Linked DNA regions of Homo sapiens: region 1 is linked to region 2. Evidence: fine-mapped expression QTL. A gene starts in region 2. The other region holds a variant in brackets. All regions are shown on one strand. Distances are from middle to middle.

The links.
Region 1: its variant is fine-mapped to the expression of AMPH in ovary (GTEx, PIP 0.99).

Annotation. Positions count from the first base shown.
Region 1 is chr7:38,680,833-38,683,741 of GRCh38, reverse strand. No RefSeq gene overlaps it. Among named protein-coding and RNA genes, the nearest start is that of AMPH, 51 kb to the right of the region's middle. The variant C/T (reference allele first, on the strand shown) is at 1,652.
Region 2 is chr7:38,629,838-38,632,708 of GRCh38, reverse strand. AMPH (amphiphysin) reads left to right here and starts at 1,336. Exons shown (of 21, transcript NM_001635.4): 1 at 1,336-1,426. The coding sequence starts at 1,358.

The sequences.
Region 1 (2,909 bases), 51 kb before region 2:
TGCTAGCTTCTGTAGTACGGGAAGGCAATAGAAGCTGTTGGAGTTTGCACTGAGTGAGCCAATTTGCAGGATTTTCCATAATCCACTGGCCTAAATAACACCTGTTGACAATATTTTAAAAAGTAAATATTGTACATATATAAAATGAGAAAATTTATACAGTAAAACAGGCATAAAATAAAAGGTAAAAGCTGCTTTTTATTACCCTTTTCATCATCTCTTCCTTTATTAGTTATCTATTGCTGTGCAATAAATTACCCCCAAATTTAGCAGCTTAATATAACAAAGCACCATTGTGTCACAGTTCTCGGGGTCAGAAGTCTAGCTGCTGCTTAGTTGGTTGTCTCTGGCACGAGGTCTCTCAGAGGTTTCAGTCAAGCTGTTGACTGGAGCTTCAGTCTCACCTAAACGCTTGACTAAGGGAAGGTCTTCTTTCAAGCTCACTCATTTGGTTTTTGGCAGAATTTAGTCCATCACAGGCAATGGATTAAGGGCCTGGGTTGCTCATAGACGGTTTCCTGCAGGCCTCCCCCGGTTCCTTGCCACAGGAGTCTTGCACAGGGCAGCTCACAATACGGGAATCAGAGGCCCTCTGAGTGAGCAGAGGAGAGAAAAGGCAAGAAAAAAAACACCCAAGTTGGAAGTCACAGTCTTTCTAAAACCTCATCTTGGAAGTGACATCCATTGCTTCTGCTGAATTCTGTTCATTAGAGGCAAGTTAGTAAGTCCAGTCTACACTGGATACGAGGGGATTGCACAATGAGGTGAACACTAGGAGGTGGGGGTCTTTGGGGGCCATCTTAGAGGCTGCCTCCTCTCCCGCCATGTGTCTTTCACCCAAAAGGAATCACTGTTAATAGTTTCTTATCATTCCTCTCAGGGAAAAACAAAAAGAATTGGATTTAAACCAATTATCCAAGATTAACCTGGAAGTGTTCCAACAGTTACTGCTAAGATCTAAATGTCAACCATTCCTAAGTAGCATAAATGTCATCCTAGCCAAGTAGACCAGATGAGCATTGAAACTCACAGCTTGCATTCAAGTAAAAAAGGTAAACAGTATAGCAATGGTAACATGGTGAAAGTGCCCAAGCGTGTGTTTACATTTTCACAAATGAAAAAATATCAACCATAGGACATATGGGCAATGCCTCTGAAGGAGTTCTTGAAAAATAAATTTGCTCAGAAAACATCTCCACCCCTGTCTCCACAAACATTGACAGAGAAGCAGAGTTGCTAGTCCATGATGCTGGTGTGCTATTAGTCCAATGGATAAGTGACAGAGACTGGTGTCTGCTAGGCCAGGTACCACACCTGGCCTCACTCAGTTATCACAGCCAACTTTGCAAAAGTGATATTAACTCCCCTTCAAGATGAAGAAACTGGTACTGAGATGTAAGTGACCTGCTGACATTCCAAGCCAAAGGTCTCTGGTTTCAATGCCTTTTTTCTGTCCACTTTACTCTCCAATAGCCGAGGTCTGTTTTGGCCTCTCTTCATTACTGATTTCCAAGCTATTCCACAACTTGAGTAGGCAGACACTTTCCCTTTATCTGGTTATTCAGAAGGAGAGGTTTCAGCTTTCAACTGCCAACCCCTCTCCAATGCAAACAAGGATTTTGGAAATAAGGACCATATGCTTCTCATCTGG[C/T]TCCAATCCATCTAGATATGTGATGCCTCACAAGGTCTGTTTCTCTTACAAAAGGTAGCAAATATTTAGAAATCATTCTTAAGCTATGTACACAGCAGCAGGACATCAGGTCCTGGCTTTTGTCCTATTTGAATTTAAATTAAGAAAGCAACTAAAAATAGATGGAAGACACAGCTATCTGGGGGATAAAGTCTACCACAAATAACACTTGTAGACAATGTCCAAACGTAACCAATAAACCATGTAATTACATTAGAGAGACTGCTGGGAATTTGAAATGACTAGAAGCTGTTTGATTTTAAAATTTGAGGTATCACTGTCTTTAAAATCTAATGTGTTAAATAACACTTCAGGATTAAGCATTCATTTAACAAACATGTATTGAATTTAGTACCAGGCAGAAGAAATGAAAAAATCCCATCTTTGGGATTCTAGAAGTCTAGGAAATAGAGTAAGATGATCATATAAAAATAATTACAGTACTCTTAGGGGGCATTTATTCTAAAATTCTTATGTTTCCATGAGGGACTTCCACCAGACCACGCTAGGCTTTTCTCCACCTCTCTCCTCTCCTCAGCCCTTCACTGGGGGTCAGTCACAGTGGATTATCTGATGAAGAGTTTGGAAGAGAAAAATGGACTTGCTTCTTTGCCTCTCTTTCTCTCCCCTCACTCCATTCCTACTGTTAAGCTCTCTGCTACTCTACTTCCAGGTAAACAGCATAGCAAGGCAGGTTCTGCCCATCTAAAGGGAGTGTAATTCAGACAGAAAAGTGTGGTACTAAGCCCCCATGCCCACACACAAATCTGACCTTCCAGAGTGCAGTCTGTCAGTAATGAAGCTGATATTTTCATTTCCATCTGATGTCACTGAATGTACATTCAAGTTATCTGGAATTATCTTTAAAACTAACAAATAGTGGTCTTCACCTCAGGCTCACTGAATCTCTGGAGGTACAGGAATTCAATAATGTGTCTCTCTTTGAACTAAGCAAGGAAGAGTGATGTTACTTTCTGGGCCCCTTAAAACTCCAAGAAAAAATACAGTTTGTGCTAAGTATAGGCGCTGTAAGACACTAAGGAGAGCCTACCTCTTCACAGTGGATGAGTAAGGACCTCACAGAGCGGATGTTATTGGGGCTAAATGTTGAAGCATCTGGAAGTATAAAGGCAAAGAGGGCAAAAAAAAATACTCCAGAAAAGAATATGAAAACTCACTGCATGAAAGTACATGTCACAGTAGGAAAATGGAAAATAAT
Region 2 (2,871 bases):
ATGGCGTCACTTTCACCACATCTTATTGATTAAAGCTGGCCATAGCATCATTCTAGAATCAAGGTGAGGGGACTACAGGGTGACACAAGAGTGAACACCAGGTGGCAGCTCGCTGAGGTCTACCAATGTAACAGTTTCCCCCAGAGGTACAGTAGGATGCTCACCTGGACTCATAGGATTCACTGTGAGTGACCACTTCTGACCTCTGTTTGCAGGGCACCACCTGACTTCTTCTCCTCACACTCTCAGTGAGAATGGAATATGAATAGTTTGACCACTGGTCAGAGCCAACAAGAGCTCTAGGTGTAGGGCAGGTTTATCCCTATTATTCGTACTTCTCCCAAGCATTAATAAGAATAATAGGGATGGTGAGTCCCTGTTAAGGTTGCCAAAAGGTTTCCAAGGAAGCAACAAGTTAGGGGGGACTGGGTCTTCCATGGTTGATGCGAAGCTATAAGGGACTTGACTGTTCCATGCACCATTTCTTGAAGAGTAGTCTATTCTAAGGTTTCTGCCCAGCACAGGAATTTTGGAGATGACCAAAACACATCGCCTGTCTTCCGGAAGCTGACCTTTCTCAACGCGGACCTCCCCGCCCTGCTAACTCTTGTTTTAAAGTTTAAACAAGTGTCAGCGATGGTCTCTCCCCGCTTTGCTCTCCACACGCCTCTCTCCTGCAGCTCTGACTTCGTTGGTTTCCCAGCCAGGGCCCCTCACTGGGCTGTGAGCCTCCTGAGGGTAGGGCGACCTCCATACCTTCTTCTGCAACACCCAGGGTGTATGGAGGGGCCTCTGTTAGCTGGAAACTTTTGGGAGCAGCAAGGGACCAGCCCCATCAGCTCCACTTCAGAGCAGTTCCAATCCAGCTGGCTTCCACATCCCTAGGGTTCTTCCCTTTTTTGTCTCCCCTATTTCTTTTTTTGCTGGAAAGAATCAGGTCCCCTCACTCTCCCCAAATACAAACTGCATTAAAAGAACCCCCGAGCTGCCCCTGGGCCCAGGGACTTCTGCTAGGCTTGGTTCCCTTTCTCCTCTCGAAACTCTTCTATCATCGAGGAGACAATCTGGCTTCTGGCTTTTCCCTCTCTTTTTCTTGGCCTCTTTCTCTTTCTTCCCCCGCCCCTTCTCCCCATGTCACAGCCAGTCCCGACGCATCCCGCCCCCGCTCTGTCGCTTTAAGCTGGTCCCGCCGCCGCGCCCCGCCCTCACCCCTCCGCGCTCCGCGGCTCCCCGCCGCTTCTCCCGCTCCTCCCTTGCTCGGCCCTCTCCTCCTCCTCCCGCTCCTCCTCCCGCTCCTCCGCGCCGCCGCCAGCCCCGCTGCGCGCTCTGCTCTTCGCAGCTCCCCGGACCCGCAGCCATGGCCGACATCAAGACGGGCATCTTCGCCAAGAACGTCCAGAAGCGACTCAACCGCGCGCAGGAAAAGGTCAGCGGCGGGCGGCCGGGGCTGGGGCCGGGGACGCCAGGCGGGGGCTTGGCCGGAGGGCACCGGCTGCAGCTGTGCGGGGCCCGAGCCTCGGGGTGCGGCGCGCTGCGGAGCGGGGCCGGGGCCAGGGACGCTGGGACGCCCTGCCCTCAGCTCGGTGACTGCCGCAAGGCGCGACCCGGGCGCCGCGGGGAGCGGGTCGGGAGGACGCAGCGCCGGGGACCCGCAGACCCTGGCCCCGGAGACGCCGGATATGTCCAGCTCCGGAGCCGGCCCCGGGTTGCCGCTCTCCTGGCCCCAAGCCAGGCAACAGAAGTAGGAGGTGCGGCAGCTTGCCCGCTGCGCCCGGAGCAGAGCGCATCTCCCTGCGCTCGCATCTCCCCGGGCCGGCTCCCAGCGCGCCCGCAGGCAGCTCGCGGGGACGCGGCCCGCAGATCGGGGCGGGAGATTGCAGCAGCCTTCCTTCTTGCGGGGGATTTTGTGGCTACTTAAGTGCAGCAGACACGAACGATTTAACAGAGAAGCCACCAAAAATCTCCCAGGACCAATAGGGTAGGATCGTGATCACACAGTGCTGTCTGGTGAGTTCTGGAGTTCAAAACAGAGATCTAGATATACACACTTTTAATTTTGGTCTATATGTTTGTGTCCCTTTTGACTCCAGTGTCCTTCTTTAGAAGGTCAAAAATAAATATGACCTGAACCTAATAGTTCCTTTCTGCATATTTCTGCACAAAGAAGGACCTTTTATTGCATTTTAAAAAATCCAGATTGCACAAATTGGGTTCTCTGTTGTTTTGCAAGTCCCTCAGTAAATTGCGCACAGTAATTTATTTTTTTTCCCCAGAGACGTGCATGAATGAAACCCAGGTCCGTAGCAAGCACAGCCCAAAGCAGGTGGAGGGGAGTTGTACCAGGCACCAGGCTTGCCTGGCTTCCCTGGTGACTGCTGTATATGACGGCCCTGAGGTCTTCATTTGTGTCCTGAGCAAAGGACATTTCCTTTATATTGTAGCTTGAGCATTGTACTTGAAAATCAACACCGGCTAATGAGCCCCATGATTGGTATCACTTGAACTGTGTTCTCTTTCACGTGGCAGTATTTTCCGTCCCTAGGATATGGGGTGTTTAGCGTTTTCCTGTTTTACTGGAAGTCAGATTTGCCATGTTGCTCAGGATGGCAATGAATTTCCCTCTTCAGACCCAATCTCAATCTCAGGCTGCCTCCCAGTTCCGGCTGACCATGAGTTGCTGAGCAGAGGGGGCACTGATCCCTTTTGTCCCCAGGCCCAGAGGCTTGGTGGCTGCCTCTAGTCCCTCCCTCCACACATGCACACTCTCCATGCAGTAAGAGGATTGTATTTCTTTTAATATCTACCCAAGCTCATCCTGAACTAAAGTGATCCTCCTCCTGCCTCTCCCTCCGCAGCTGAATTAGCAAGGCT